Homo sapiens: one gene and its partner. The protein of the gene in region 2 purifies or fractionates together with the protein of the main gene of each other region. This does not show direct contact. Each region holds a gene or a part of one and is shown on either strand. Other genes may lie near its edges. The genes, in order: DPYSL5 and SHMT1.

Region 1 (16,233 bases), on a different chromosome or scaffold from region 2:
GAACCTCAGCCTGTTCTCTGTCTTCCAACTGTGCCCCCGACTTTGCTACACCATTTCCTACCTTGGAGCATCCTGGCCTGGTCAAGTCATGCCTATCCACCACTCACAGCCTTCCTATCCTAACATGACCTTTCCTTCCACTGGGCTGCTTTTGCACTTGCTGCTCTCCATCCGCATCGAGGAATACTATCTCTTGCTGCCTTGTAGTCTCATAGTATTTTGAAGTCATTTCTGTTAAAACTGAACTTTTCTCCTTTCCTGTTTCCCAGCTGGACTCTAAGCTCCTTAAGATGCTTACATTTCTTCTTCTGGAGCATCTGATACACATAATAGAGGGCACATAGTCTGCGCATTAGTGCTACCTACAAATTATGCTTCTTGTTCCTCATGAATATTTACTGGGCTCCTACTATGTGCAGGCACTGGGCTAGGTGCCTTATATGCTGTATGTCATTTAATTCTCATAGTAACTCCATGAGGGAGGTATTACTATCTCCGTTTTACAAATGGAGAAACGGAGCTCAAGGAGATTAAGTAACTTGCTGAAGATCTTACAACTAATAAGTGACGGAGCTGGAATTTAAACGTAGATCTGCCTGCCTGAATGTCTGATTCTTGTCAGGATACTATAGTGAGAGCAAAGTAAGGTCAGGAAGTGGGACCATGCCCTGGATGATGTGGTAAAGGCTGTAGACCCAGAAGGTAGGAGTGGAAAGTAAAAGGAAGTTTAGGAGTGCAATCAATTAAAAATGTGCTATTTAGGGAAAAACCTGTCAGCTTCAGGATGAGCTCAACAGGCTGCAAATTATCAGTCAAGATAAGGCCTGAGGGCTGTTTGTAGCCAGAGGGACAGAGAGTGGGGCCTCGGAGAACAAATCATGCATCTCTCGGATGCCCTGGAAGAGGCTGTTTTCTTAAGAAGTATTTGACAGAAGGTGCTGGGGTTGGGTGTGGGGTTGGGGGGTGGTGCAAAGAGGATGGAGTGGGGGTCAGCATGCAAGCTGCCTGGAAGGGGATCATCAGAGAAAGGGCCAAGTGGTCAGGTGTCCTCAGCAACCCCCCACCCATGTGAATTAGCTGAGTTGACAATGAAGCCCAGTGTAAGGCCTGATCCCCCTACATCAGGCCAGCGCAGGTGATAAGCTGATGGCTGGACTGGCCACATAATTTGCAGGGCCTAGTGCAAAAGGAAAATATGAGACTCCTTGTTTAAAAATTATTAAGAATTTCCAGATGGTGACAGCAGAACATTAAAACAAGCACGGAATGGCCAGGCTCAGTGACTCACGCCTGTAATCCCAGCACTTTGAAAGGCCGAGGCAGACAGATCACCTGAGGTCAGGAGTTCGAGACCAGCCTGGCCAACATGGTGAAATCCCGTCTTTACTAAAAATACAAAAAATAAGCCAGGCATGATGGCACACGCCTGTAGTTCCAGCTACTTGGGAGGCTGGGGCACGAGAATCTCTTGAACCTGGGAGGCGGAGGTTTCAGTAGCTGAGATCATGCCACTGCACTCCAGCCTGGGTGACAGAGCAAGAGTCTGTCTCAAAAAAAAAAAAAAAAAAAAAAAAAAAGCAAGTGCAGAGCCCTTCTAAATGTAGGGCCTTGTGCAGCTGCATGGGCGACATGCCCATGGAGCTGGGTGGGCCTGGACAGTGGGCTTGTGATTTGAATGGGAAAGGTGTTTCCTGCGTGCCAGGCATGGTTCCAGGTACCATACATGCATCACCTCACTTGATGAAATGCTTGGACCCTTTTTGGGGGTTGTTCACATCCCATGGTGATGTTCAGAGCTTGCTTTCCAGAGGGCCAATAAGTAGCCAACAGAACGCTGAAGGTGAAGGAGGTTACCATGAGCAATAGAGAAACTACCGAGCTGGTTATTTTTTTTTTTTCCTCTGGTACTTCGGGAGGATGTGAATAAAAGATGGAAGATAATTTTAATGTGAAAAGAAAAGGAAGTGGTTCAGCAATCCCAAGAGAGGCAGATCCATCCGAACAAATGATAGCTTTTCCAGCAGCATTAAGAGCTGCAGACATGTTTGCACTGTGCTTACCAGTTTACAGAGCACATCCACTCGTCATTTGATTCTTAGTGCAGTATTGTTCCCTCTATAAAGATTCAGTTGGCCTTAATCTATATACATACCAGTAATAGTAGATCCTGCTTTTCTGATTCCAGTCACCTCCTCAAACATACACCCCTTTTCCATGCATATTTTCGTATGAAGATATGCTCTAGGAAGTCTCTCCCCTTCCTCAATGAAAAATTCCATGAATTGGCTGTAGCCCAAGTGCCTTCTCAATAGCAGAGCGCAAAGTTTGTGCCTTGACCAGGTTCTTGGCCTTGAAGCAAGAGAACCAAATCTTGTGGGCAGGGTTGCTGGGGAGCAATTGCTACAGGAAATTCAGCAAAACATATTGGAGCGGCAGGGCAGTCCTGTAGAAGATGGTAAGAGAGTGAATCTTCAAAGGTCTTTGTCCTGATAAAGCTGGAAGTGACCAACGCATTGTTCTCTCCAATGCCGTGATGTCAGCAAATAAATCTTATCTGAAGGGCCACAAGTATCTGAAATGTCTTTCCAACTTGCTGAGCAGGACCCTGGTCAATATGGAGACCCCCATGAGCCCCACGGTGGTCTGATGAACTTCTGAAGTATAAAGATGGTGTTTATAAAAGGTTTAGACTGAGTTCTAGTACAGGTTCCTGCGCCTTGCCAAGTGTATGCCTGGAAACTGTGTCATAAAATGGATTACCATTAAATATACTGAGTTTTCTTAGGGAACAAATGAGCATCAAATAAATCCAGCTTTACCCAGTAGTATGTTATAAATGTCAAAAACAAAATAATAGCGACACTTTGAAATTGTAAAATGATGTTTCATATTCTTCCAAATAATATACAATGGTGCAGTGTCTGTTGGTTAAACAAATGATCCTAATGTCTCTGTTAATTTAATAGTGAGAGATGTCAGGATAAAAACAAATTTCCACCTATACAATGGGAAATGCTTGGCTGGACAGATTTTTTTAAACATTTATATTTTTAAAAATAAGGGCTTGGGTTGATAAATGGGCACTTTTGGTCAGCCACCAGGCTCAAGGAGGCTGTTGTGAGATCGGCTGTTCCATGATCAGGTCTGGAATAGTTGGAGATGAGGATGTTCTACAAAGCTGCAATTCTGCTTCCTGGCAGTGTCCACCTAGAATGAGGTCTCTGCTCATATGCGTTCAAGAATGCTCAAGCACTGTGTGAAGTTGTAAATGTCCATGAACTTGGAAATGCATTCATACATGGAGGCATGTTTATACAATGAATCAATTAAAAGGAATGAAATAAATCTACATAAATAAATCTTAAAGATAATATTGAGTACATGAAAGCAAGTTGCAAAAGAATATAGACAGTATGATAGATATTATTTGTATAATTTTTTTAATTGTATAAATTTTGTATAAATTTTTAAATGTTATGTGTTTACATAGTAAAAGCATAAAAACATAGATGAGAGGAATGTATGCCATCTTCAGGGAAGAGAGGGATGGGAATAGGATGGAGGGCTTTAGTTGTATCAGAAATATTTCATTTCTTTTTTTTTAAAAAAAAGCATCTGAGGTAAACATGGCAAAAATGTTAACATCTGTTAAGTTTGAGTAGTGGAAATATGGGTATATGTTTTATTATTTTCTGTATTTTACTCTGTTTGAAATATTTCATAACTTTAAAATATTTTAAACACATTAAGAATGGCTAAAATTTTAAATACTGCAGTTTTAACTTCCTCCAAATTTATTCTGAAGTGTACATTATAAAACTCATATATTCTGTTAAATTTTGGAGAAGTAGAAAAAATAAATTCCTCAGAATCTCATCACTCAAAAATAACCATTGTTGGCCAGGCGTGGTGGCTCACGTCGATAACCGCAGCATTTTGGGAGACTGAGGCATGCAGATCACTTGAGGTCAAGAGGTCAAGACCAGTCTGGCCAACATGGTGAAACACCATCTGTACTGAAAATACAAAATTAACCGGGCATTATGGCAGGTGCCTGTAATCTCAGCTACTCAGGAGGCTGAGGCAGGAGAATCACTTGAACTCGGGAGGCGGAGGTTGCAGTGAGCCAAGATTGCACCACTGCACTCCAGCCTGGGCCACAGAGCAAGACTGTGTCTCAAACAAACAAACCATTGTTAATATTTTGGTCTATTTCCTTGCATTTTTATTTCTTGTGTGGGGAGTATGTGTGTTTAAACATGGTTCCAAGCATTTTGAATCAAGTCTTTTTCACTCATTACAGTATAAAACTTTTTCCGTGTTTTGACAGCCTTCGTGAACATCATTTTTTTAAATATAAAGTTTCACATTTAATTTGGTCATGAATTCATAAATACATAAGTATTTTGTACACCATGTGCTTCCTTGTATTGTTTGTATTATAACACATTTTAAATAGGGACCTTTGACAGGGCAGAAGCATGAAAGGACACCAACCACGAGCAACACACTATACTATGGCTGTCCTGTGTCACATGCTATTTGGCCCGGGGATATAGCAAAACCTAACGTAACTAAACAAAAAAAACCCCAATTATTTCATGTTGTCAGGAAGCTTACCTTAAAAGAATAGCTCGGCCTGGCGTGGTGGCTCACGCCTGTAATCCCAGCACTTTGGGAGGTCGAGGTGGATCACCTGAGGTCAGGAGTTCGAGACCAGCCTGACCAACATGGTGAAACCCCGTCTCTAGTGAACATCATTTTTATTGGCTTCCATTAAAGATCTTCTGCAGCGTACTTAACCAACACCATTTTTTGTGTAAAAAGTCATGAGCATTCAGCAATCACATGTTCTTAAACATCATCCTTTTGAAAGCCTCGGGAACACAATTGGGCTGTGCCTTGCTGCCGATTTCTACAAGGCTGTTTTGTGGGGGATGACACTAAAAAGGTCTGTCACATCTGTGATACCACTTTCCTGTGAAAACAGAGCTTGTCAGCATTCATCCTGTGGGTTGGAATGGTACATATTCAAAAAGCCAACTCTATGTATGTCTTGCCTAAGAGGAAACAAGTGCTTGAACATCAGTGTGTGGTGTGGGCTTGCGAGCCTGCAGCTGGGGGAGAGTTTGCTGATCCAGTGAAACTCTTGTTTCGAGGCCTTGGGGTAACAGCGGTAATAATTATTCCAGATACTTATGTGCATGCCCCTCCCAGCTCATAGATGCTCTCACATCCATTGCCACCTGACCCTCTGGGGACCCCTGAGAAGTAAGGTGCAGGTCAGGGGGCACGTGGCTGCTCCTAGATTACAACCAACACGTGGGAAAGTCAAGACCACCTCCTATGCTTCCAACTCCTTCCTGAACTATTTTCAGTTCCTGTCCTTAGACCCAGGCAAAAGGGGCCTCTTCCCAGGGCTCTGGACTTTAGGGTCCTCTTCGGGCCCTCCAACAACTTGTACCCCTGCCCCATAGGTCTGGGGATTGTGTCTACCCAGACCCCACTCACCCATTCCTAAACTACACTCTGGGTCCCTAGAATTCCCTGAGAAACAGCCCTGAGCATTCCAGAGCCTACAAAACCCCGAATCTCTCCTCCTGGGGGACAGACCACCAATGTGTGCATACCAGGCTCAAGGACAGCATTTTTGCAGAAGGTGGACAGAGCTTAGGTCTGCAGGCTGCAGGATCAATTCAGGATAGGCGCGTGTGGGCTGGGGGCAGGCACAGAGGCTGAGGCCAACTATCCCTGAAGTGTAGCTCAGAATTTTAAGGAACTTGAGGATTCTAAGGGCCAGGCCCTTTTGGCCTTTATGAAGATGTATTTGACAGAGTAGGAGGATAGAGTATATTCTGTGTAATGGTTTTTTAGCTTGATCTAACTTTTGAGTGTTTAGAGAATCAGCACATGATCCTCCTTTTCTCCTCTTGCCCTGGGACCCACAGTATGAGGACTGGTCCTGGCTCTTTTATCTCACTGTGCTGTTTCCAGGTTCCTCTTTTCCTATCCAAGCCTGCAGAGGTACTGTGGGAGTGCAAAGGAAAGCAATCTAGAGCCACAGAAAAATGAAACAATTTAGTGTGTAAAGCTCAATATACACCCCCACGTGCACATGTAAAAGCAAGAGATGCATTTCAGGACAAAATAGAGTACAACCACCTGCTGTGAGGATGAATCAGCCTGGCACGATCCAGCAAAATCGGAAATAGAAGCCTGCTAGTAAAGCTACAATCTGCACTGCTCTCCTTCTCCCGGTTCCTCTGCCGCCCCCATCACAGCTCCTGCAGGTGCCACAGAACTACCACCCTCTGTTGGTTGCTTTAAGCTGTGCAAGCAGTCAAACCACTGAGTTCCCCAGGACGACTGGGAACATTCTCGCTGGCCCAGCCTGCGTCATGGAACATCAAGGTTGTGAGAGTTTTCATTTTAATTGCTGTTGGGCCACTGAGCTAATTTTTTTTCAGTCCCTTATTCCCCAGCAATATTTTTCATTTGTGATCAAGGATTTAACTGAATAGAGAAGCATGAAACCATTAAGACAATTTCATGGAGCTCTTTTTCTCCCCTACAGAAAACAGATAAACACCTAAATTCTGGCTGGGTGCAGTGGTTCATGCCTGCAGTCCCAGCACTTTGCGAGGCCAAGGTGGGAGGATCACTTGAGCCCAGGAGTTTGAGGCTGCAGTGTGCTATGATTGCACCACTGTACTCCAGCCTGGGCAACAGAGTGAGACCCAGTCTCAAACAAAAACAAAAACCTAAGTTCTGAGTAACTAAACACACATGTTAGGACAACACTTTTACCACATCTGTTCCATAAGCAATGTTTTACTTAACCTTCACAACTACCCAACAAGGAAGCCACCCTATTGTGTAGGTAAAGACTTTGCATCCAGAGAAGTTAAGTAACCTGGCAGAGGTTATTCCAACCATGAGGGAGCAGAGCAGGGACTTGAACGTGGAGCCGTGAAGCACTGTAAGGACTCAAACCATTTCTCACCAGAAAAAGAGTCACTTTGTCTTAGAGCCCTCACAAAGACTCTCATGTTATGGGACTCTCAATTATTTAATTTAATTAATTTATTTATTTTGAGACAGTTTCACCCTTGTTGCCCAGGCTGGAGTGCAATGCCGCATTCTTGGCTCACTGCGACCTCCACCTCCCAGGTTCAAGCAATTCTCCTGCCTCAGCCTCCCAAGTAGTTGTGATTACAGGCACCCACCATCACACCCAGCTAATTTCTGTATTTTTGTAGAGACGGGGCTTCACCATGTTGGCCAGGCTCATCTTGAACTCTTGACCTCAAGTGATCCACCCACCTCAGCCTCCCAAAGTACTAGGATTACAGGTGTGAGCCACTGCACCCACTCTCACTTATTTTAATTCTATTTTAAGTTTTGTTTGGGAACAACACATTAGCCTGAAATAGCCTTTGATCGATGCTAGTTTTGGAACTTCACAGAAGTCCCCTGATGAAATTCACTTTTAAAAAGTTGAGTGGGGGAATCTCTAATACAGATTTAGTCATTTTTCCTGGGGGTTCACTCTATGATTGCGAGTGAGGCTTTTTAACAATTTCTTTTTAAAGTGGTATCTTGCGGAGTTGTGAATAGGATCCGTTTTCACTGATAAATCACACATGCATCTAAAAAATGCCTGTCTCAAACAAGATAGATGAAAATGAAGCCCCTATGCTTAGAAAAACTGAAGACAAAGACCCTGAGGTTGAAGATGCGTGCAAAATGTTTGAACAAAATTGCTTCATGAAATTTGAGAGCATAAAACAAAACAATATATCCAAATTAACATTTTCTATATCGTGGTTCAAATATACGTGTGTAACTAAGTAAATGATATAAACAGACATTTGATTATGCCATCAATATTATGTTATTATATGATACAACACTATATTATGTTATATATTACATGCAGACATTTGATCATGTTATCTATAGAGTCAATTGGCTAAAAATCGTTTGGGGAGAGAATCTCCTCATTGGGAAGATAGGCCTTAGGTCGGGTGACCCACGATGTGGTTTTTCCAGCGCGCCAAGCTGAAACCCTGGCGGAGGAAGAAGCAGGTTTGGGGACCCGTGGTCATGATGAAGGTCGCGCTGGCTCTCGCACCTCCACATGGCTCTTTACAGTTTCCCAAACCTCGCTGCCCTTGGTCCTCACAGCCTCTTGTGAGGCAGGGCCTGTCTTTGAATGGACCATGAGGACCATGTCTCACCACATCATTGACTCGGGGGCAGGCAGGGCTGTGACGAGACTGCCTTTTCCCGTCTTCCCAGGCAGCACTCGTCGGAGGCACCACCATGATCATCGGCCACGTCCTGCCCGACAAGGAGACCTCCCTTGTGGACGCTTATGAGAAGTGCCGAGGTCTGGCCGACCCCAAGGTCTGCTGTGATTACGCCCTCCACGTGGGGATCACCTGGTGGGCACCCAAGGTAACAGTGCTGGTGGGATCCCAGAAGAAGGCACAAGTGGTCTTGTAGGCAGAGGGGCTGGTTGGGGTGCAGTGCCTCCTGCTTGTGTGGGGCACCCCTCCCACTACCATCCTAGCTCCCCACAATGCCAAAAGAAAACACACTTGGGATTCCATAAGGGGAGCGGATGGGCTTGTGCTGCTTAACTTAATGAGCCATTTTCCGGCAGGCACAGAGAGGCCAAGGCCAGAGCCCAGGCCTTGGGGATGCAGTTTCATTGCTCTGACCATGAGGCTCTTACCGTCTCGTGTGAATGTAGGGCACCACTGACAGGTCATGGGCAGTGCTGCTGAGAAGAGGCCTGAGCAGGGCTCAGGTGCAGAGGGTCATATCCCATATCCTATGTGTACTGAGAGTCCACCACACTGCGCTGAGGTCTCCGAACTGAGGCTCCCATCCTGCCTCAGTACTGTCTGGAATGAAAGGAATGTGGTATGCTTTTTTCCTACTGGGGGCCCAGCTTCTGCTCTGAGAAGCATCGAGGCTGTCCTGGTCTGTGACTGAGGCTGGCACCCCCTGAGCCTTTCTCAGTTCAGCCTCTGTGCCTCCTTTGTGTCTGTGCCCCTGGCCTCTGGCTTTCCTGTCCTCCCCCTGCCCAGGCCCCAGGGTCAGAGTCCAGACTCCTCTCCCCGGATTCCCACTTCCTTGCTCTTCCTAATCTACAGGCATTTCGATTTGGCTTTGTTTCTGGGGTTTTTCTGCTTTTTTGCCCAGGGTAGCAGTCTGGATATTCATTCTTTCATCAATTATTTATTAAGCCCCATGTACCAGTACTTTGGTGGGTGCCCCAGAATCATAAAAATAATAAGCATTATTAGTTTTACCAACTCAGGAACTGCCTCTTCATTTTCCGTCAAAAACCCACTTGTAACTGCTGCTAATCAGAGTGTATATTCAGGGCAGCTTGAATCTGTGCTCCCAGGTGGACATCCTCAAGCTTTGAGCTCGAATAAACTCTGTTCTTAATCATAAAAAGAAAAAAGAAGTTTTATGAAGTTCTTCAGTTGCAGGCCCTGGTATAAAGGGCCTAACACCCTTCTCAGATGATAACCTAAAGCCTCACTATATTTCTGCCCTCGGGTCTTAGCCTTGAGCTGGGGGCTCACCCGGTTTCTTCATTATTTCTGACCTGGCACTTATAGAAGACCTCCTCCCGGTTCTGGGCCAGAGGTGCAGATCACGCTGAATGTCAGCCATTCCTTATCTCAAATGGGGGTCTCCTTTTTGGACACTCTCCTGGGTGAGAGGCCTCTACCTCTGAGCCACTCTCTACTTCCCCTGGAGCTGGCCTAGAATAGAGGGTCTTCTCAGGTTCCCAGCAGCACAGAAGCCAGGCCAACCCTCCCTAATTTCCTGGAGCTTATGGTGACTTTCATGCATCAGGAATTTAAAATTCTGTTTTATAATAATCAAATAAATGTTTCTAATTATAGATGTGAAAAATAGAAAAGAAAGGAAGTACATAATCCAGTAACCCCCAGCACCATCCCTGCTGTTAAACTTCTTTCTTTCCCATCTTTTTTCATCCATGCTTTCACAGAGTAGCTATTTTGCATAGGTGTGAGCATTTTCTATTTTGCCATGAAGTTCATGAACCAGCAATATAATGGCCACTTAATATTCTACCAAGTGGATGAACCTGAACTTATTTTCCTGTTATCAGGCCAATGTTGCTTCCATGTTTTTCCTAGTACAAATAATGTTAGGAATATCCTAACTCTCATAACTTTGTTCATGTTTAGCTTTGTTCCTAAATTTGGTTTTCCCAGGACCTCTGGATTTTTAGCATTAGTATGCCTTCTTTGTAATGCCAGGCAACAGCCCACAGAAATTAAAATCATTATTCCTATGTTTACCATTAAGGCTGGTTTGGAGACAGACATAGGGGACAGGCCTAAGTGATAGGAGAAACGTGCCTATAAGGTAACAATGTGGCTCCTAAACTGTGTCGTGTTGACAATTTTCACAGTACTTCCGCATCCATCTACTCAGGTGGCCTCACAGCAGCCTGTGGGGTGGGAGGAAAGTGAGATAGAGAGGTGTGGGGGGTCAACCGACAGACTGAGCTGGGGCAGGCCCCACATCTCCCCCATGCTGGGCCGGTGCCTGCCAGTCGGCCTCTTGGGTGTCTGCCCTCACGCAGCATTGCCCTTCTACTTGTTCTCCAGGTGAAAGCAGAAATGGAGACACTGGTGAGGGAGAAGGGTGTCAACTCGTTCCAGATGTTCATGACCTACAAGGACCTGTACATGCTTCGAGACAGTGAGCTGTACCAAGTGTTGCACGCTTGCAAGGACATTGGGGCAATCGCCCGCGTCCATGCTGAAAATGGGGAGCTTGTGGCCGAGGCAAGTCTGCAGCCAAGAATATTGGATGGAGGGACACCAGTGGAGACAGTTAGTTCTCAGGGGATTCCTGACCACCCGTCACTGATCCCACAGGATTCAGACAAAATCAGTTGTTAAAGTGTGAGGTGTGGACACCCCAGCTGTCAGATCTTGGTCAGAAAATCCAAACTTTACTACTGTCTGTAAAAAACAAATCTCTTTTTATGGTTCAAAAAGGCTTCTAAGTCGTAGGTGATGATGTCTTAATTCTAATGATATGAGATTTAAATTCCATTATAGCAGAGAATTTGGAGCACCTCTCAGACATATTTTTAATGAGATTTGATATACAGAATAAATAAGAATCCGCTTCCCATTTGGCCTCTTCAGAGGATCTGAGACATTAAAGAGATCTATTCATGGCACCAGGAAGGATAAGCCTCTGGTGCATTCTCCTAGGTCTTGGGGTAAGGGCTAGCCTAGCAGTTGCTGGAAGCTAGAGCTTAGTCTCGATTTCCAGAGAGGGAATTCTGAGTTTGAAATCAGTAAAGAGTGCTTGTCTTTGGTGTCCCAGGCCTGTTGCTAGTTATAATACTTAACTGTATTTTTAAGAGAACAAGATATGTTCAGTCATTATGAAGTGAGAATCAGGAGAGCCCCACTGCATGGGCGGCCTGTGCATGCTCTGCCTTCTTTAGAAGACGAACACTGCAGAAGTGAGAAAAGAAGCAAGCCTATTGAAACAGGCGGTGTCTAGCATATTTCACTGTCCCTTGGGTTCAGTATTTTCTTACACGGTGTCTCTGTGATTCTCTCCATTTTCTTTCTCTTGCTGTTATCCAGGGTGCTAAGGAGGCACTGGATTTGGGGATCACAGGCCCAGAAGGAATCGAGATCAGCCGTCCAGAGGAGGTGAGAAACACTTCCTGTAGCCTTTGTCAGCGTCTCTCATGTAGATTGACAGAATCTTCCAGGATGGAGGAGACATCAAACATACAAATTAGCCAGGCACAAGGGCTCATGTCTGTAATCCCAACATTTGGGAGGCTGAGGTGGGTGGATGGCTTGAACCCAGGAATTTAAGACCAGCCTGGGCAACATGGTGAAACTCCGTCTCTACTAAAAATACAAAAAAAATTAGCTGGGCATAGTGGTGCATGCCTGTAGTCCCAGCTAACTACTTGGGAGGCTGAGGCAGGAGGATCACCTGAGCCCAGGAGGTTGAGGCTGCAGTGAGCCGTGATGATGCCACTGCAATCCAGCCAAGGTGATAGAGTATATATATATATATATACACACACACACATACATATATATACGCACACACACGCACACACATACGTGTGTGCGTGTGTGTGTGTGTGTATAGCATCATTTTCTCCACGGGTGAAATTTCCATTTGATTCTGATTTCAAGGATCTAGGGGAGACAATGTCAGCACACCTGGGGTTGCTGTGCCCAAAACTGAATCAAGAGACAAAAGACAGACTGAAAAGGCCTTCAGGTGTTAGAAGAAATTTCAAACTATAAACTCTGCCTTTGGGGGATGACATTCCTTTGAGCATCTGAGGAATACTTTGGACCAGGGGTCACCAACCCCCAGGTCATGAACCGGTACAGGACCGCAGAGCAGGAGGTGAGCAGCGGGCCAGCTGAGAGCCCCCTGGGCTCCACCTCCTGTCTGATCAGTGGTGGCCTTAGATTCTCATAGAAGTGTGAAGCCTATTGTGAACTGCACATGCGAGGGATCTAGGTTGCACGCTCCTTATGAGAATCTAACTAATGCCTGATGATCTGAGGTGGAACAGTTTCTTTCTTTATTTTATTTTATTTATTTTGAGATGGAGTCTCGCTCTTGTTGCCCAGGCTGTAGTGCAATGGCGCAATCTCGGCTCACTGCAACCTCTGCATCCCGGGTTCAAGCCATTCTCCTGCCTCAGCCTCCCAAGTAGTTGGAATTACAGGCATGCACCGCCACACCCAGCTAATTTTGTATGTTTAGTAGAGACGGGGTTTCACCATGCTGGTCAGGCTGGTTTCGAACTCCTGACCTCAAGTGATCCACCCACCTCAGCCTCCCAAAGTGCTGGGATTACAGGCGTGAGCCACCGTGCCCAGTCCTGAGGTGGAACAGTTTCATCCTGAAACCATCCCTCCCCATTTCCCACCACCACTGCCCCATCCCTGTCCTGGTCTGTGGAAAAATCGTGTTCCACGAAACCGGTCCCTGGTGCCAAAATGGTTGGGGACTGCCGCTTTGGACCCTTTCCACCAAAAACAGGAGACACATACAAGTCTATGCTCCTCCCCCTCATTACCTGCTGAGATGGTCATTCAAAGCTGTTTTCCGCCTGCCCTCTGGCTTTATCCCTGTGCACAGTTTTGCATGGCATTGACACAAATCCCCTACAGTCCCCCTGCTAAAGAATTCTGCTCTAGAGGGACCACATTAGACGAATAACGCATTCCTGCCCTATTACCCTGTTTACACATTCTCTACTGTTTTAGAAGAGGGGGAGAAACTTCTCATTTCTTCAAAGCCTAAAAATGCAGATGGGTGGTTGGTTATCCATGAGGGATTGAGGGGGAGGCCTCGAGGGACAAGGAGCAGGACACAGGATGTGGTGGCACTGCCATTACCCAGAAACCAAGTTGGCCCACGAGTGGGTCCGCTGAGGAGTGCCCCCTCACTGCCCTGATCAGTGCCTGTGTTTCAGAGCCCTTGAATATAGGTCCTGTTTGGCACTTCTGAATTGGTAGAGAAACACACACCAGATTCGACTGAAACACAGAGGGTATGCCTGTGAGAACAGGAGAGAGCAAGGGGTGGACACACACACTAGACTTTCTTTGTTACTTAATACAAGGGAAAGAGCAAGGCTTTGGCTGTGGTCGTAATACCAATAATTATCACCGCCATTATCTATTGGTTAAAGGTGGGAGGGCCCTGGGTCTATGCCAGGGGAGATGTTGCTCCCCAGGGGAAATTTGACAATATCTAGAGATATTTTTGCTTGTCCCAACCTGGGGGGCAGGGCGGATGCTACAGGCATCTAGCGAGCAGAAGCCAGTGATACTGCTAAACATCCCACAATGCGCAGACACCCCCACCATAAAGAATTACGCAACTCGGCTGGGTGCAGTGGCTCACACCTGTAATCCCAGCACTGGGAGGCTGCGGCAGGAGGATTGCTTGAGCCCAGGAGTTTATGACCAGCCTGGGCAATAAAGGGAGACCCCCTCCATCTCTGCAAAAACTTTTTAAAAATTAGCCAAGCATGGGCCGGGCATGGTGGCTCACACCTGTAATCCCAGCACTTTGGGAGGCCAAGGCAGGCAGATCACGAGGTCAGGAGATCGAGACCATCCTGGCTAACATGGTGAAATCCTGTCTCTACTAAAAATACAAAAAATTAGTCGGGCATGGTGGTGGGCGCCTGTAGTCCCAGCTACGCGGGAGGCTGGGGCAGGAGAATGGTGTGAACCCAGGAGGCGGAGCTTGCAGTGAGCCAAGATTGCGCCACTGCACTCCAGCCTGGGCGACAGAGCAAGACTCCGTCTGGGAAAAAAAAAAAAAATTAGCCAAGCATGGTAGCGCATGCCTGTAGTCCCAGCTGCTCAGGAGTCTGAGGTGGGAGGATCGCTTGAGCCCTAGAGGTGGAGGCTGCAGTGGGCCATGATCATGCCACTGCACTCCAGCCTGGGAGACAGAGTGAGACCCTATCTAAAAAAAAAAAAAAAATATATATATATATATATGTGTGTGTGTGTGTGTGTGTGTGTGTGTGTGTGTATATATATATATATATATATATATATGAATTATACAACTCAAATGCCAATAGTACCATGCGCAGAAACCCTAATCTAGGCTAATTTCCGGAGTCAAATCAGCCACTATTTCTCCTTTGCTGCAGTTCTGAGGTGGCTATGGAGAGAATACACCAGAAAACAAGGAGAGACATGACCTTGGGTTTTTATTTACTTTTGTTTCCTTGCCTTTTAATTAAGCCCCAAGTAGCATCCAGCAAGGGCGTGCCTGGTATTGTAAGACCTAGAATTCTCCCTCACTGTGAGCCAAGGTAGTTGGAGGTTAGTGCCTCTGCCCGGGCTTTGCCCCGAGCCAACCCCTATGGGTGCAGTTGCTCCATGAAGGGGAGAGTATGGTGTGGGTATCCTTGGAGGAGATGGTGAAGTTTGGTTTCCTCCTGTCCTTTGTTTCTAACAGCTGGAAGCTGAAGCCACTCATCGTGTTATCACCATTGCAAACAGGGTAAGTCCCCCGATGTCCACTGTGGGATTAGAAACCAACCTTGGCCAGGCACGGTGCTGATGTCTGTAATCCCAGCACTTTGGGAGGCCGAGGTGCGTGGATCACCTGAGGTTAAGAGTTTGAGACCAGCCTGGCCAACATGGTGAAACCCCATTGCTACTAAAAATACAAAAATTAGCTGGGCGTGGTGGCGTGCACCTGTAATCCCAGCTACTCAGGAGGCTGAGGCAGGAGAATTGCTTGAACCCAGGAGGCGGAGGTTGCAGTGAGCCAAGATCGTGCCAACTGCAATCTGTCCTGGGTGACTGAGCGAGACTCTGTCAAAAAAAAAAAAAAAAAAAGAAAGAAAAGAAAAGAAAGAAAGGAAAGAAAGAAAGAAAGAAAGAAAGAAAGAAAGAAAAGAAAAAAGAAAGAGAAAGAAAGAAAAGAAAAAAGAAAGAGAAAGAAAGAAAGAGAAAGAAAGAAAGAAAGAAAGAAAGAAAGAAAGAAAGAAAGAAAGAAAGAAAGAAAGAAAGAAAGAAAGAAAAGAAAGAAAGAAAGAAAGAAAGAAAACCAACCTCTACGATGCAGCCCCATTCTGCTCTGGGTGCCAGCACCATGTCTTGCCCACAGGAACCCAGAGCTGTTTGCTGACTGAGCGCTGTCATGCCCACCATCCTTGCATTCACCCTTCTCACCACCAGCTTTCCATTCCACCCCGCCGAGCCTGCTGAAGCTCAGTTCATTGCTCACGTGTAAACTCAGTCCAGCTCCTAAACTCTACATCCTCCTAATGTGATAAGCAAAGAGAACAGAATAACATCTGGGGAAACAGAATTTCCCAATTGCACTTTAGAGCTCTGGCCGCTGGACAAGGACATTGTTTCACTGTCATGACAATAGTTATTTATCAATTACTTCCTGGTGGAACTTAACCCAGAATAAGGAAAGACCCAAACAACAAAAAGTCAGTTCCTTGCCTTTTAGCTCAAGCATATGCTCAGAGGAGTTAAGCCATGGACCGTGGTTGCACAGCTTAGTAGAGAAAAAGCTAACCAGTATTACAGTCCAGGTGTCCGTTCGCAAGGTCAGCCTTCTCTTGCCTAGACTCTGAACCCTAACCCCCTTGTATTTTGTTCATCTCCAGGGTGCATT
Region 2 (16,233 bases):
GCCATTCCCTACTGTCCCTACCTTAGGCCAGTCTCAACCATGCCCTACTCTGTGTTAGCATCTCCTGCACAGAGACAGCCCTCCAGCTTTTTCCCCAGCGTGGAAGTCCTGGCACACGATTTTGGAGGACAGGTGGGATGGGAATTAGGGGCTACAGGATGAGCAGAGGCAGATGATGTTTTACCAGCAATGGCGTGGTTGTGGGGACCTCCCTGCAGGCCAGGGAACACAGCAGAATTGATAAGAGACTCCAGGTTGTACAGAATCTCTTTGCCAGTCTTGGGATCCACACTTTTCACTCCTGGAGGAAGAAAAACATCACAGTGGGATCATAGGGGCTGTCCCCTCTTTTTCTTTTTAGGCTCAAACCCAGACTGGCCAGGGAAGAATCAAGCACAAGCCTGGCCTTTATCCTGGCATGGAGAACTGATTTGTAACACAGCGGAGCAGAGGGGACCCTTGCCTCCTGAGGGCAGACCAGTATCTTTATTTTTTGGAAACCAACACATCATGGATGACTCTGGCTGGAATACTGGTTTCAGCACCTCACCTGTCCACCTGCCTCCTCTGATGGCATCTCTTCTTAACACAACTAGAACAAGGCCTTAAAAATGAAAGGACAGGCTGGACGCGGTGGCTCACACCTGTAATCCCAGCACTTTGGGAGGCCAAGGCGGGCGGATCACGAGGTCAGGAGTTTGGGACTAGTCTGGCCAACATGGTGAAACCCCGTCTCTACTAAAAATACAAAAATTAGCCGGGCGTGGTGGTGTGCACCTGTAGTCCCAGCTACTTGGGAGGCTGAGGCAGAAGAATCGCTTGAACCCGGGAGGCAGAGGTTGCAGTGAGCCAAGATCGCGCCAGTGCACTCCAGCCTGGGTGACAGAGTGACATTCTGTCTCAAAAAGAAAAAAAGAAAAAAAAAGGACAGAAATTTCCCTCCACTAACATTGTAACCAAGAATTCAAGAATTTGCCCTGGACATCTTTCCTTAAAGAAATGTCCATGTGGCTGGGCGTGGTGGTTCATGCGTGTAATCCCAGCACTTTGGGAGGCTGAGGCAGGTGGATCAATTAAGGTCAGGAGTTCAAGACCAGCTGGGTCAACATAGTGAAACCCTGTCTCTACTAATAATACAAAAATTAGCTGGGCATGGTGGCGGGCATCTGTAATTCCAGCTACTCAGGAGGCTGAAGCAGGAGAATGCGTTGAACCCGGGAGGTGGAGGTTGTAGCGAGCCGAGATTGCACCACTGCACTCCAGCCTGGGCGACAAGAGCAAAACTCCATCTCCGGGGAAAAAAAAAGTCCATGTAATCCCAGCACTTTGGGAGGCAGAGGTGGGAGGATCACTTGAACCCAGGAGTTCAAGACCAGCATGAGCAACAAAGAGAGAACCCATGTCCACAGAAAAATTTAAAAATTAGCCAGGCATGGTGGCGCATACCTGTGGTCCCAGCTACGTGGGAGGGTGAGGTAGGAGGATTGCTTGGGCCCGGGAAGTTGAAGTTGCAGTGAGCTTTGATTGCACCACTGCACTGCAGCCTGAGTGACAGAGTGAGACCCTGTCCCCAAAAATAAAATTTAAAGAGTCTCCAAGATGCATTGAAAGAGACAACGCTCATGTGGCTAATATGAAGAATAAGGTTCCTTTCTGAGAAAAAGTTAACCATCAATAATAGCTACTATTCAGTCATAATCGGTAACATCTATCTAGAGCTTCTAGTGAGCCAAGAACTGCTCTAATCACTTTACATAAATTCATTTAATCCTCAAAACAGCAGTCCAAAGGGACAGGTACTATTATTATAGTCCCCACTCTAGAGGTGAGGAAATGAGGAACAGAGAGGCTGCACAGCTAGCCCTAAAGTCATACAGCGGGTGTGCGGCAGAGCTAGTACTTGCTCTGATAGGCTGGCTCCGGAGTCCCTCAGCACTGGGTGAAATAAATCACATCAACACACAGTGGGGGAAAAAACCAAATGTCTCCTGGGCGGGTGGGAATGGCTACCTGCCTCAGAAACATCAGCACAGCTAAAAACGGTCCTTGGAGGAGCACAGAGGCAACGGGGTGCTGAGAAGCTGAGGGGGCATGTGGCTGTGTCTAGTCCCAGCCAGGGGCTGGGCAAGAAGACCCTGCCTCGGGTAAGAGTAATGTAGTCGAACAGCCCTCTCCCTCTCCCTCCCCCTCCCCCTCCCTCTCCCCACGGTCTCCCTCTCCCTTTCCACGGTCTCCCTCTGATGCCGAGCCGAAGCTGGACTGTACTGCCGCCATCTCGGCTCACTGCAACCTCCCTGCCTGATTCTCCTGCCTCAGCCTGCCGAGTGCCTGGGATTGCAGGCACGTGCCGCCACGCCTGACTGGTTTTCGTATTTTTTTGGTGGAGACGGGGTTTTGCTGTGTTGGCCGGGCTGGTCTCCAGCTCCTAACCGCGAGTCATCTGCCAGCCTCGGCCTCCCGAGGTGCCGGGATTGCAGACGGAGTCTCGTTCACTCAGTGCTCAATGTTGCCCAGGCTGGAGTGCAGTGGTGTGATCTCGGCTCGCTACAACCTCCACCTCCCAGCCGCCTGCCTTGGCCTCCCAAAGTGCCGAGATTGCAGCCTCTGCCTGGCCGCCACCCCGTCTGGGAAGTGAGGAGCGTCTCTGCCTGGCCGCTCATCATCTGGGATGTGAGGAGCCCCTCTGCCTGGCTGCCCAGTCTGGGAAGTGAGGAGCGCCTCTTCCCGGCCGCCATCCCGTCTAGGAAGTGAGGAGCGTCTCTGCCCGGCCGCCCATCATCTGAGATGTGGGGAGCGCCTCTGCCCCGCCGCCCCGTCTGGGATGTGAGGAGCACCTCTGCCCGGCTGCAACCCCGTCTGGGAGGTGAGGAGGGTCTCTGCCCGGCTGCCCCATCTGAGAAGTGAGGAGCCCCTCCGCCTGGCAGTCGCCCCGTCTGGGAAGTGAGGAGCATCTCTGCCCGGCAGCTGCCCTGTCCGGCAGGTTGGGGGCAGCCCCCGCCCAGCCAGCCGCCCCGTCCGGGAGGGAGGTGGGGGGCAGCCCCCGCCTGGCCGTCACCCCTTCCAGGAGGTGGGGGGGCGCCTCTGCCCGGCCGCCCCTTCTGGGAAGTGAGGAGCCCCTCTGCCCGGCCGCCCCTTCTGGGAAGTGAGGAGCCCCTCTGCCCAGCCGCCACCCCGTCTGGGAGGTGTACCCAACAGCTCATTGAGAACAGGCCATGATGACGATGGCGGTTTTGTCGAATAGAAAAGGGGGAAATGTGGGGAAAAGATAGAGAAATCAGATTGTTGCTGTGTCTGTGTAGAAAGAAGTAGACATAGGAGATTCCATTTTGTTCTGTACTAAGAAAAATTCTTCTGTTAATCTATAACCTTACCCCCAACCCCGTGCTCTCTGAAACATGTGCTGTGTCCACTCAGGGTTAAATGGATTAAGGGTGGTGCAAGATGTGCTTTGTTAAACAGATGCTTGAAGGCGGCATGCTCATTAAGAGTCATCACCACTCCCTAATCTCAAGTACCCAGGGACACAAACACTGCGGAAAGCCGCAGGGTCCTCTGCCTAGGAAAACCAGAGACCCTTGTTCACTTGTTTATCTGCTGACCTTCCCTCCACTATTGTCCTATGACCCTGCCAAATCCCCCTCCACGAGAAACACCCAAGAATGATCAATAAATACTAAAAAAAAAAAAAAAAAAAAAAAAAAAAAAGAGTAATGTAGTCACCAGAGGGCTGGTGTCTCTGCTGATGCAAAGTTGGCGCATCAGGTCTCACCACAGGCTAAATGATGACCTGACCACTAACAGGCTTTCCCAGGTATGGGAATTCGAAAATAAGGGGAGTGCCTAGGGGTAGGTTATGAGGTAATGGAAAGAAAAACCTTCACTAAAATGATATTAATGTTTATACATCCATGTCTTCTAGTTTGACTACTATGAGTCTTTCTCTTTGAGAAACATGATGGATCACTGTAAGTTCACCAGAATAATGCAGCCTTGTGAGGCCTCCCAGTGGCCCCCAGCCAGCCATGCACCCTCCTTTCATTCAAACACCTGCCTCTCGAGTTCAGCAACCGGCGCCATCCTAACACATAGTGGTTGCTGATCCCCCTCCTATGTTCCTAGGACCTGGATGCACAAAAGTGAAGCAGGAGCTGTGGCTGACAGTCTCCTTCTGGGGATTCCTTTCTTTCTTTCTTTTTTTTTTTTTGAGACGGCATCTCGCTCTGTCGCCCAGGCTGGAGTACAGTGGCACAATCTCAGCTCACTGCAAGCTCCACCTCCCAGGCTCACGCCATTCTCCTGCCTTCGCCTCCTGAGTAGCTGGGACTACAGGTGCCCACCACCACACTCGGCTAATTTTTCGTGTTTTTAGTAGAGACGGGGTTTCACCGTGTTAGCCAGGATGGTCTTGATCTCCTGACCTCGTGATCTGCCCGCTTCGGCCTCCCAAAGTGCTGGGATTACAGGCGCGAGCCACCTCACCTGGCCGGGAATCCTTTCTGTAAAGCCTGTCACTGCTCCTTCCTAAGCAGCTCTTTAAGGGACTGGGATCTTAATATTTTCCAAGGATCCCAGGTCAGAGTTTTTCCCAGCTCCCTCAACTGAATCTGAACCCCCACAGGAGAAATGTAAACCATGGTACCCATCTGTACCCAACATTCGGGAGCTCACCTTTCCTGTAGAAGATCATGCCAGCTCGGCAGCCTCGCAGGGTCTTGTGAGTGGTGGTGGTCACCACATGGCAGTGTTCAAATGGGGAGGGCACCACGCCAGCCGCCACCAGCCCGCTGATGTGAGCCATGTCCGCCATGAGATACGCCCCGTTCTCATCTGCAATCTTCCGTAGCCGGGCATATTCCAGGTTTCGGGAGTAGCAGCTGGTTCCTGAGACAGGAAAGGTGACACAGCTGCATCAGAGATGTCCACCGGCCAGCTGAGTTGGCTTCACAGTGGCCTCTAGATGTGCAGATCTGAAAGCCCAGAGATTTCTTCCCTTAAAGTCTCAGAGCAAAAATGGAGAATGCCCTCAAAAAGCACCTCTGTGCTAAAGGCAACCACTCTAACTCTTCAACGTCTTGGTGGTTGAGATGGCCCCAACTACTATTGCCAGCGCAGTCAGGGCCTGACATTTCTAGATGCTTCTCTGAGAACAGTCTCACATCTTAATCTACATAGCACAAAAAGCAGCAAACACACATCTGTATCCTGAAAGAAACTAATATATGTAGACCCCAGAAACTCAGTTATCCAGGGCAGAAACTAGCAGTGGGCTCAACAGGGTGCGAACATCTTTCCATCCTCATTCTGTAAGAGGCACCAGGCTACTGGTGAACAAGGTGACTTTCCGCCCCGCGCATCACCTGCGATGATCAGCTTCGGGTGGAAGAGGCGTGCGTTCTCCTCCAGCTGGTCATAGTTGATGTAGCCAGTATCTGGGTTCACCTGTGGAATGTCAGGGAGGCAGGTTCAGGCTGCTTCCTCCAACCACACCTGCCTCCTGTCCTCCCACTTGAACTGGCTCCACCCACCATGACAAGAGGAATGATGTCCTAGATGAGGACTTGAGGGTGAGACAGGATGGATACTGGTGTGTTCAGCCTGCTCAACCAAGTATGGCTCACAGACCCAGGAGTCCCTGAGGAGTCCCAGGGTTGTAGTGAGCCCTGCTGCTGGGGCACTACCTGCTGAGAAGGAACCAAAAAGCACCTGCAGAATGAAACAAATGTGACGGGACCACACAATGGAAACCAAAATGGTTACCTTCAGGAACAAGACCAAAATGCCTGCTAATACTACTTCTATTCCAAGTATAATGAGGCAAGAAAAAGAAACAAAAGGCATAACGATTAGGAAAGAAGAAATTTAAAAACTGACATTACACACAGACAACACAATATACCTAGAAAATCAAGATGCTAGGGGCCAACTGTTAGAATAAGCAAATTTAGCAAGGTCACTGGATACAACATTGAAAAACAAGAAGTAGGGGCTGGGCGCGGTGGCTCACACCTGTAATCCCAGCACTTTGGGAGGCTGAGACGGGCAGATCATGAGGTCAGGAGATCGAGACCATCCTGGCTAACACGGTGAAACCCCGTCTCTACTAAAAATGCAAAAAATTAGCCAGATATGGTGGCGGGCGCCTGTAATCCCAGCTACTTGGGAGGCTGAGGCAGGAGAATGGCGTGAACCCGGGAGGTGGAGCTTGCAGTGAGCCGAGATTGTGCCACTGCACTCCAGCACTCCAGCCTGGGCAACAGAGCGAGACTCCATCTGAAAAAAAAAAAAAAAAAAAGCCAAAAAGTATATAAAAGCAAGAAAGATAGAAAATGAAATGTAAATAACAAAAACCATAAAAGGAAAATCATACCAAACCTTTACACAAAACATCATTGCGTTGTGTATTTTGTGTCACAAAATGCTTGACAAATTATAGTAATTAAGGCAGCACGCATTCATGGAAGGGCAGAGCATCTGGCTTAACCAGAAGCAGAACCACACACAACACAGGTCATTGGATCCATGCCAGTGGTGACGCTGCAGTGCAGTGGGGAGAGGATGACCTTTTCAATCAATGGCACTAGGTCAACTGGGCATCCATTTGGACAAAAATGTTATCTGGATGCCCGCCTCACCCACACAAATCAATTCCATATTCAGCAATCCCACTTGTGAATCTATATCTTAAGAACTTGAAATCAGTATGTCAAAGAGACATGTGCACTCCCATGTTCACTGCAGCACTATTCACAATAGCCAAGTTATGGAATAAAGCCATGTCCATCAACAGATGAATGGACAAAGGAAATGTGACACATATATATATAAACAATGTAATAATAATCAGTCTGAAAAAAGAAATTCTGTCATTTGCAACAACACCGATGAACTTGGAGGACCTTATGCTAAGTGAAATACGCCAGGCTCAGACAGACAAATACTGCATGATCTCACTTCTTTTTTGAGACAGAGTCTCACTCTGTCACCCAGGCTGGAGTGCGGTGGTGCCATCTCGGCTCATTGCAACCTCTACCTCCCAGGCTCAAGCGATTCTCCCACTCAGCCTGCTGAATAGCTGGGACCACAGGCAGTGCCACCACACCCGGCTAATTCTTATATTTTTGTAGAGATGGGGTTTCACCATGTTGCCCAGGCTGGTCTCGAACTCCTGGACTCAAGTGAGCCTCCTACCTCGACCTCCCAAAGTGCTGAGATTATAGGTGTGAGCCACCGCACCTGGCCATGTGATCTTACTTCTATGTGAAATCTAAAACAATCGAACTGCTGGGCGTGGTGGCTTATGCCTGCAGTTCCAGCACTTTGGGAGGCCGAGGCAGGTGGACCACCTGAGGACAGGAGTTTGAGACCAGCCTGGCCAACATGGTGAAACCCCGTCTCTACTAAACATTCACAAATTAGCCAGGCGTGGTGGCGTATGCCTGTAATCCCAGCTATTCGGGAGGCTGAGGCAGGAGAATCACTTGAACCCAGGAGGCGGAGGTTGCAGTGAGTCAAGATGGTGCCACTGCACTCCAGCCTGGGCGACAAAGTGAGACTCTGTCTCAAAAAAAAAAAATTAAAATTGAATAAATAAATAAATAAATAAAACAATCAAACTCACAGAAGCAGGGTAGAATGTGGTTACCAGTCACTGGAGGGTGGCAGACAATGGAGAGATACTGAGCAAAGGGTACAAAGTTGCAGTTAGACAGGAAGAAAAATAATAAATATTTAAGGAGTGGGATATGTTAGTTAACTTGATTCAATAGTTCCACACTGTATATACAAATCATAACATCACTGTGCATCCCATAATTATATATAATTTGTTTAAAAAAAAAAGTCAATTCCAAACAGATTGTAGATCTCGATGTAAAATTTAAAATAATTTTTCTTTTCTGGCAACACATCTCTTAGGAAGTTCATTTTATTAAACTTCTATAAACATATGGGTCAGCCAGGCGTGGTGGCTCACATCTGTAATCTCAGCACTTTGGGAGGCCGAGGGGGTCAGATCACCTGAGGTCAGGAGTTTGAGACCAGCCTAGCCAACATGGTGAAACCCCACCTCTACTAAAAACACAAAATTAGCCAGGCATGGTGGTACACACCTGCAGTCCTAGCGATTCAGGAAGCTGAGGGAGGAGAATCGCTTAAACCCGGGAGGCAGAGGTTGCAGTAAGCTGAGATCGTGCCACTGCACTCCAGCCTGGGCGACAAGAGGGAAACTTTGTCTCAAAAAAAAAAAAAAAAAAAAAAAGGGGTCAGCCGGATGCGGTGGCTCATGCCTGTAATACCAGCACTTTGGGAGGCTGAGTTGGACAGATCACTTGAGCCCAGGAGTTCAAGACCAGCCTGGGCAACATGGCAAAACCTTGTCTCCACAAAAAATACAAAAATTAGCCAGGCATGGTGGCATGCGCCTCTAGTCCCAGCTACTTGGGAGGCTGAAGAGGAAAGATCGCTTGAGCCCAGGAGGCAGAGGTTGCAGTGAGCCGAGACAGAGCCACTGCACTCCAGCCTGGGAGGCAGAGCCAGATACTGTCTTAAAAAAAAAAAAAAAAAAAAAGTCATGGGTAAGCACACATAACCAGCAGAGCATAGAGCGCACCACAGGAAAAACTGGGCTCTGGGATCTGAGAAGCCTCAGGGAAGAGGAGATGTGCAGAGAGGCTCCCTGTTCTGAAGGCCCTGACCCAACCTTCCTTCCTCTTACCTTGGTGTCCCCCTCAGAAACTACCAGCACATCTGGAGTGAAAGGTTTCAGGATTGGTGGTCACTCTTTCCAAATAAAAAAAGGCAGTTATAATCCAACCCAACTATAGAAGCTTGCCACAAGGTTTCGGGAACCAAGACCTCATCTAGAAAGTCAAGCTGAAAGATGATTTGTGGTTTTGTTTGCTGTGTTTTGCTTCAGGGGTGTGGTTCTTTCTCAGTCACCTGAATTTGGCAAAGAAACCGTTTTATGAAATGAAATATCAACAGCTGACCTCCAGTAAAAATGGACGTAATTCACCGGGCATGGTGGCTCACGCCTGTAATCCCAGCTCTTAGGGAGACAGAGGCAGTAGGATAGCTTGAGTCCAGGAGTTTGAGACCCGCCTGGGCAACATAGTGAGATCTTGTTCTCCACAAAAAGGAAAAAAAAAAAGATTTAAAAAAAATGGACATAATTCTAAAATTTTTTGTGTAGCCACAATTACCGGAAAAAAAAAAAAAAAAAAAAAAGCCTGTGCTGCTTTCTCCCTTTTTAATTTAATGGGTTTTTCAAAGGTTTTTCTTTTCTTTTTTTAATCTTGAAAATGAGACAAGAGAACAACTCCTAGAAGAATTCATAGGCATTTATAATAAACTGCAGATGGGGTCCACAGTGCACAGAGGATAAGGAAGGAGACCCCAGCAGTCACTTAGGACCAGGGACAGGGAGGAATTCTCGAGTCACAGTGGGGATGGGCCAAAAACACAAAATAGAAGGTTAATGTTGCTGTTGCTCTAGCCTGGCCCTGCGTGGGGCTCTTGCAGTGGAGTGGGGCAGGGGCTGAAGGTGGAGGCAGGCGGTCTGGTGAAGGCTGGGCAGGGCAGTGGCCCTGGGACACCCCCTAACCTCCAACTCTGCAGCCCGGTGGGGTGGAGGTGAGCTGCCTCTGGCTGCTGATGAATGCCAATAAGGTCTGTCTCCTCCTCCTGTCCGCCAAGGGCAGGACTCAAATCACCCCCACAGCGGGTGAGCTGCACCTCCTGCTGCCCAAGCTGGCCAGGGTCCCAGGCCCCACCTCTCCATGCCCATCCTGAGGTGGGTCCCCTCACTGCACCCACAGGACTGCAGCCTGCACAATGTACATCAAAGACGGGGGTGGCTGGAGGGAACTGGGTGCGGGACGCAGATTCTTTCTTTTTTTTTCTGGAGATGGAGTCTTGCTCTGTCACCTAGGCTGGAGTGCACTGGTGCAATCTTGGCTCACTGCAACCTCCGCCTCCCAGGTTCAAGTGGTTCTCCTGCCTCAGCCTCCTGAGTAGCTGGGATTACAGGTGCCCGCCACCACGTCCAGTTAATTTCTGTATTTTTAGTAGAGAAGGCTTTCACCATGTTGGCCAGGCTGGTCTCGAACTCCTGACCTCGGATGATCCGCCCACTTCGACCTCCCAAAGTGCTGGGATTACAGGAGTGCACCACCATGTATTTTTAGTAGAGACGGGGTTTCACTGTGTTGGCCAGGCTGGTCTTGAACTCCTGACCTCATGATCCGCCTGCCTCAGCCTCCCAAAGTGCTGGGATTACAAGCGTGAGCAACTGCACCCTGCCTTTCTTATTTATTTATTTTTTTTGAGATGGAGTTTCACTCTTGTCGCCCACTCTGGAGTGCAATGGAGCAATCTTGGCTCACTGCAACCTCCGCCTCCCAGGTTCAAGCAATTATCCCTCCTCAGCCTCCTGAGTAGCTGGAACTACGGGTGTGCACCACCACACCTGAGGAATTTTTTGTATTTTTAGTAGAGACAGGGTTTGAACATGTTGGCCAGGCTGGTCTCGAACTCCTGACCTCAGGTGATCTGCCCACCTCAGCTTCCCAAAGTGCTGTGATTACAGGTGTGAGCCACCGAGCCCAGCCAAGACAAACTATTTTGTTACTATTGTGACATGTTTCAAAATCTAGCTTCAAGGCTGGCCTTGGCCAATGAGGAGATCTGTGACTGCAAACACCTAGGTGTTCTGTGAAAAGAAATGACTGCAAAAAAGAGCACACGTGCAATCACCAGCACTGAGACAAAGGCTGAGTACACACAGAACCATGGACAGCATGCACCCAAGACCATGCAATGCCAGCCAAGCAGAAGGATGCAGTGCTACCTTTTTTCATGGTAACAAACATGAAACTAAGCAGGAATGGCACATTTATTAATAAAGAACATGAAAAGATGGTTCCGGGACACTAGAAAGAATCACCAACACTGGACACTAAAAGAAAAAGCAAGTTACCTCTTCTTCCCATTATCCTTCGTTTTTATAGATAAATCACCATGCCTGAATAAGCCCACACATCTTACAGGCATTTTTTGACCCAACTGTTTATACAGACGGGTCCCACGAAAAACAAGTATTTGCCTGGGGCCCTGCACACCCTAGAGGCAGCACTTGGCACTGGTTCTGATGGTGTTGGTTCCACTGCTGGGCTGGCTGCGTTATCAGGTATGTGCAGTGGGGTGGCAATGGCAATGGGGTGTACACCTGAGCCATACAGGTGCTCCTCAACTTATGGGGTTACATTCCAATAAGCTCATCATTAAGCTGAAAATATCATAAAGTCAAAAATGCATGTAATATACCTAACCTACCAAACATCACAACCTAGTCTGGCCTACCTTAAACATGCTGAGGACACTGTGGTACCCTCCACTGGGCAAGATAGTCAAACACAAACCTTATTTTATAATACGGTGTTGACTATCTCATGTAATCTACTGAATACTGTACTGAAACTGAAAAGCAGAATGGTCGTATGGGGGGCTTGAAGTACAGCTAATAACGCATGTCACTTTTGCACTATCCTAAAGTTGAACGCCCTAAGTCAAACCACTGTCTGTTCCTCTGTAGCCACTATACACAGGCAGGGGCTAGCCCTAACGTGGCCATGGAGGACTGTGGCTGTGGATGGTGCCGGGCTGCTGGTTTTGGTGCTGGAGCTGGGGACGTTGCCATGCCTGTAGCTACTGCATCCTTGTGCTGCTGCTGGCCCACAGGGGCTCCGAGCAGAGATGTCACCAGGCGAGGGCAGAGCTGCAGAGGTGGTGGCTGTTGCTGGGGTCCAACTGTAGTGACCTGGTTGCTATTCCCCAGGGTTGCTATTCCAAGCAGTTGCCACTGCCCCTGCCACATCTGAACTCTCCTCAGTAGTTGCCTCCCTCACTGGTTTCCCTGTGGCCTCAGCTCAGACCCTCGTCTCTCCATCCCAGCTGCCCCAGCGGGTCCTGAAAACCTGAGGAGTCCCCGCTGCAAGGAAATTAAAAACGGTGCGAGGTGGGGACTTCCTGTAGTGACACATAAACCAAACTTACCCCTGCAGGCACAGCCAAGCATCAGAGGTTTCCCAAGGAAATAAAAGCTAGGAGAGAAACACATGCTTACCTTGTAGGGCATAGATTCAAAGAAGATGGACGTGGCAGAGATTTTCTTCTTGTCTGTCATGAACCCATGGGTCAGGTGGCCCCCATCCGGAAGGTCCAGGCCCATGATGCGCCCATGGGGTTCCACCAGGGCAGTGTACACAGCAAAGTTTGCAGGGGAGCCTGAAACGAGTGGACCAGAGGAGACATGATTATTTCTAACTGAGGTACCAAGTGGCATCCGGGACCTTGGCCACTAAGCCTTCACCCAGGAGTGGCGAGAACAGGCCTTGTACCTTCCCTGAGCTCCAGGAGGTGCCCCTTCACCACCAGCCTTGAGAGGTGAAGTTCAGAGAGAGGGCACTGCCTGGGAGGGGGTATAGAGCTGGGAGCCCAAGGGTAATGCAGAGGGATGCGTGACTTATCTTTTATTTATGGCAGTTTTTTTTTTTTTTTTTTTTGAGATGGAGTTTCGCTCTTGTTGCCCAGGCTGGAATGCAATGGCGCCATCTCGGCAGCTCACTGCAACCTCCGCCTCCCAGGTTCAAGCAATTCTCCTGCCTCAGGCTCCGAGTAGCTGGGATTACAGGCATGTGCCACTACACCCAGCTAATTTTTGTATTTTTAGTGGAGACCGGGTTTCTCCATGTTGGTCAGGCTGGTCTTGAACTGCCGGCCTCAGGTGGTCTGCCTGCCTCCGCCTCCCAAAGTGCTGGGATTACAGGCGTGAGCCACTGGGCCCGGCCTATGGCAGTCCATGGCAGTCCATCTTAGGACTCTTCTTGGTGCATGTCGGCCCTGGGGGATGCACATGAAGAGGCTGCACCAGGCCATATGGATGAGACAAGCACCTGAGTAGGGCTGGACGTTGACCCCCCAGCACTGTGGGTCCAGCTTATAGGCCTGCAGGGCTCGCTTCTGACAGAGGGTCTCCAGTTCATCAATAAACTCAGTCCCGCCATAGTATCTGTGGGAGAAGAGCAGGAGACTTAGATCCACTCAGACCCAGAAAGTCTGTGCTTCACAGAGGCCAAAGAAGCTTAGGGGTGGGACAGTGAAACTAAAGTGGAGAGAAGTAATGAGAAGAGCTTGTTAACATGCAGATGCTGAAGCCAGCATGATCAAGTGTTCCACCAATGCCTCTGGAATCTACAGTCAAGAGACCAAACCAGCTGTGCAACTTGGAGCAAATATCTCATCTATAAAAAGAGGGGGTTTTGGCTGGGAGAGGTGGCTTATACCTATAATCCCAGCACTTTGAGGAGCCAAGGCAGGAGGATTGCTTGAGCCCAGGAGTTCGAGACCAGCCTGGGCAATACAGCAATATCCCCATCTCTACAAAAAATTTCAAAAAATTAGCCAGGTGTTGTGGTGTGTGCCCATAGTCCCAGCTACTTGGGAGGCTGAGAAGGGAAGATTCACTTTGGCCCAGGAGGTAAAGGCTGCAGTGAGCTGTGATCACGCCACTGGACTCCAGCCTGGACCCTGTCTCAAAAAAAAAAAAGAAAAGAAAAAGAAAAAAAAAAGGAAAGAAATCCTATCACATGCTATTAATACAACAGGGATGAGCCTGAGAACATTATGCTAAGTGAAACAAACCAGTCACCACAAGACAAGCACTGTATGATTCAACTTTTATGAGGTCCCTAAAGTAGTCAAGCTTAGGCTGGGCATGGTGGCTCACGCCTGTAATCCCAGCACTTTGGGAGGCCGAGGTGGGCAGATCACCTGAGGTCAGGAGTTCCAGACCAGCCTGGCCAATATGGTGAAACCCCGTCTCTACTAAAAATACAAAAATTAGCCGGGAGTGGTGGCGGGTGACTGTAATCCCAGCTGCTCGGGAGGCTGAGGCAGGAGAATCTCTTGAACCCAGGAGGTGGAGGTTGCAGTGAGCCGAGATCGCCCCACTGCACTCCAGCCTGGGCATCCCAGCAAGACTCAGTCTCAAAAAAAAATTTAAAGTAACTACATGCAGTGGCTCATGTCTGTAATCTCAGAGATTTGGAAGGCTGAGGTGGGAGAACTGCTTGAGGCCAGGAGTTCAAGACCAGCTAGGCAACATAGTGAGATCTCAGCTCTACAAAAAATTTTACAAATGAGCTAAGTATAGTGGCTTGCACCTATAGTCCTAGTTACTTGGAAGGCTGAGGTGGGAGGATCACTTGAACCCAGGAGTTGGAGATTGCAGTGAGCTTTGATTGTACCACTGCACTACAGCTGGAGCAACACAGTGAGACCCTAACTCTAAAAAAAATAAATAGGCCGGGCCCGGCGTAGTGGCTCACATTTGTAATCTCAGCACTTTGGGAGGCCGAAGTGGGCGGATCACCTGACGTCAGGAGTTCGAGACCAGCCTGACCAACATGGAGAAACCCCATCTCTCCTAAAAATACAAAATTAGCCAGGCGTGGTGGTGCACGCCTGTATTCCCAGCTATTGAGGAGGCTGAGGTAGGAGAATTGCTTGAACCTGGGAGGCGGAGGTTGCGGTGAGCCGAGATTGTACCATTGCACTCCACCCTGGGCAACAAGAGCAAAACTCTGTCTCAAAAAAATAAAAATAGATAAAAAATAGGCCGGGCACGGTGGCTCACGCCTGTAATCCCAGCACTTTCGGAGGCCGAGGCGGGCGGATCACGAGGTCAGGAGATGGAGACCATCCTGGCTAACATGGTGAAACCCCGTCTCTACTAAAAAATATATAAAAAATTAGCCGGGTGTGGTGGCGGGCGCCTGTAGTCCCAGCTACTCGGGAGGCTGAGGCAGGAGAATGGCGTGAACCCGGGAGGTGGAGCTTGTAGTGAGCCGAGATCGTGCCACTGCGCTCCAGCCTGGGCGACAGAGTGAGACTCCGTCTCAAAATAAATAAATAAATAAATAAAAAATAAATAGGCCAGATGTGGTTGTTCACACCTGTAATCCTAGTAATATGGAAGGCTCAGGTGGGAAGACTGCTTGAGGCCAGGAGTTTGAAACCAGCCTGGGCAACACAGCAAGACCTCATGTCTATTAAAAATTAGCCTGGTGTGGTGGCACGCACCTGTGGTCCTAGCTACAGAGAGGCTGAGGCAGGAGGATTGCTTGAGCCCAAGAGTTTGAGGCTGCAATGAGACGAGATTGCACCACTGCACTCCAGCCTGGGCAAGACAACGAGACCTTGTCATTCATTTATTCACACATACATAACATTTTGTTTTAAACCCAGAACTTTGTTTTTAGGTTTGTATCAAGCAAAGTCATTAACGTTAGGTCAACACTGTTTTCTTTTTTTTTTTTCTGAGATGGAGTCTTGCTCTGTCTCCCAGGCTGGAGTGCAGTGGTGCGATCTCGGCTCACTGCAACCTCCGCCTCCCAAGTTCAAGCGATTCTCCTACCTCAGCCTCCAGAGTAGCTGGGATTACAGGCACGCACCTCCACACCCAGCTAATTTTTGTATTTTTAGTAGAGACAGGGTTTCGACATGTTGGCCAGGCTGGTCTCAAACTCCTGACCTCAGGTGATCCACCTGCCTCAGCCTCCCGAAGTGCTGGGATTACAGGTGTGAACCACCACGCCTTGCCTATTGTTTTCAAATATTGCCTTTGATTTTAAATAATGTTCCAAAGGTAGATTAATATTAAATTATATTAACAAAATATAATGAAAACATGTAATAATTACCTTTTATTTTTATTTTTATTATTTTTTTGAGACGGAATCTCACTGTCACCCAGGCTGGAGTGCAGTGGCGCGATCTCGGCTCACTGCAAACTCCACCTCCCAGGTTCACACCATTCTCCTGCCTTAGCCTCCCGAGTAGCTGGGACTACAGGCGCCAGCCACCACACCTGGCTAATTTTTTTGTATTTTTTTTTAGTAGAGATGGGGTTTACACCGTATTAGCCAGGATGGTCTCGATCTCCTGACCTCATGATCCACCCAGCTCGGCCTCCTAAAGTGCTGGAATTACAGGCATGAGCCACCACGCCCAGCCAATAATTACCTTTTAAAAGAGCCCTTTAATTGGCTGGGCACAGTGGCTCACGCCTGTAATCCCAACACTTTGGGAGACAGAGGCAGGCGGATCATGAGGTCAGGAGATCGAGACCAGCCTGGCTAACACGGTGAAACCCCGTCTCTACTAAAAATACAAAAA

Evidence for each region.
Region 1: the proteins of SHMT1 (region 2) and DPYSL5 purify together in Homo sapiens (affinity purification with mass spectrometry; 2 studies listed by BioGRID and IntAct, with this or other methods). This does not show direct contact.

The regions. Positions count from the first base shown.
Region 1 is NC_000002.12:26,916,586-26,932,818, forward strand, and holds part of DPYSL5 (dihydropyrimidinase-related protein 5), read left to right. Parts: intron 1-8,301; coding exon 8,302-8,460; intron 8,461-10,667; coding exon 10,668-10,847; intron 10,848-11,669; coding exon 11,670-11,738; intron 11,739-15,054; coding exon 15,055-15,099; intron 15,100-16,233. UniProt on the Homo sapiens protein: Involved in the negative regulation of dendrite outgrowth.
Region 2 is NC_000017.11:18,335,375-18,351,607, forward strand, and holds part of SHMT1 (serine hydroxymethyltransferase, cytosolic), read right to left. Parts: intron 13,067-16,233; coding exon 12,951-13,066; intron 12,283-12,950; coding exon 12,122-12,282; intron 5,513-12,121; exon of another isoform or gene 5,440-5,512; coding exon 5,358-5,439; intron 4,882-5,357; coding exon 4,669-4,881; intron 302-4,668; coding exon 185-301; intron 1-184. UniProt on the Homo sapiens protein: Interconversion of serine and glycine.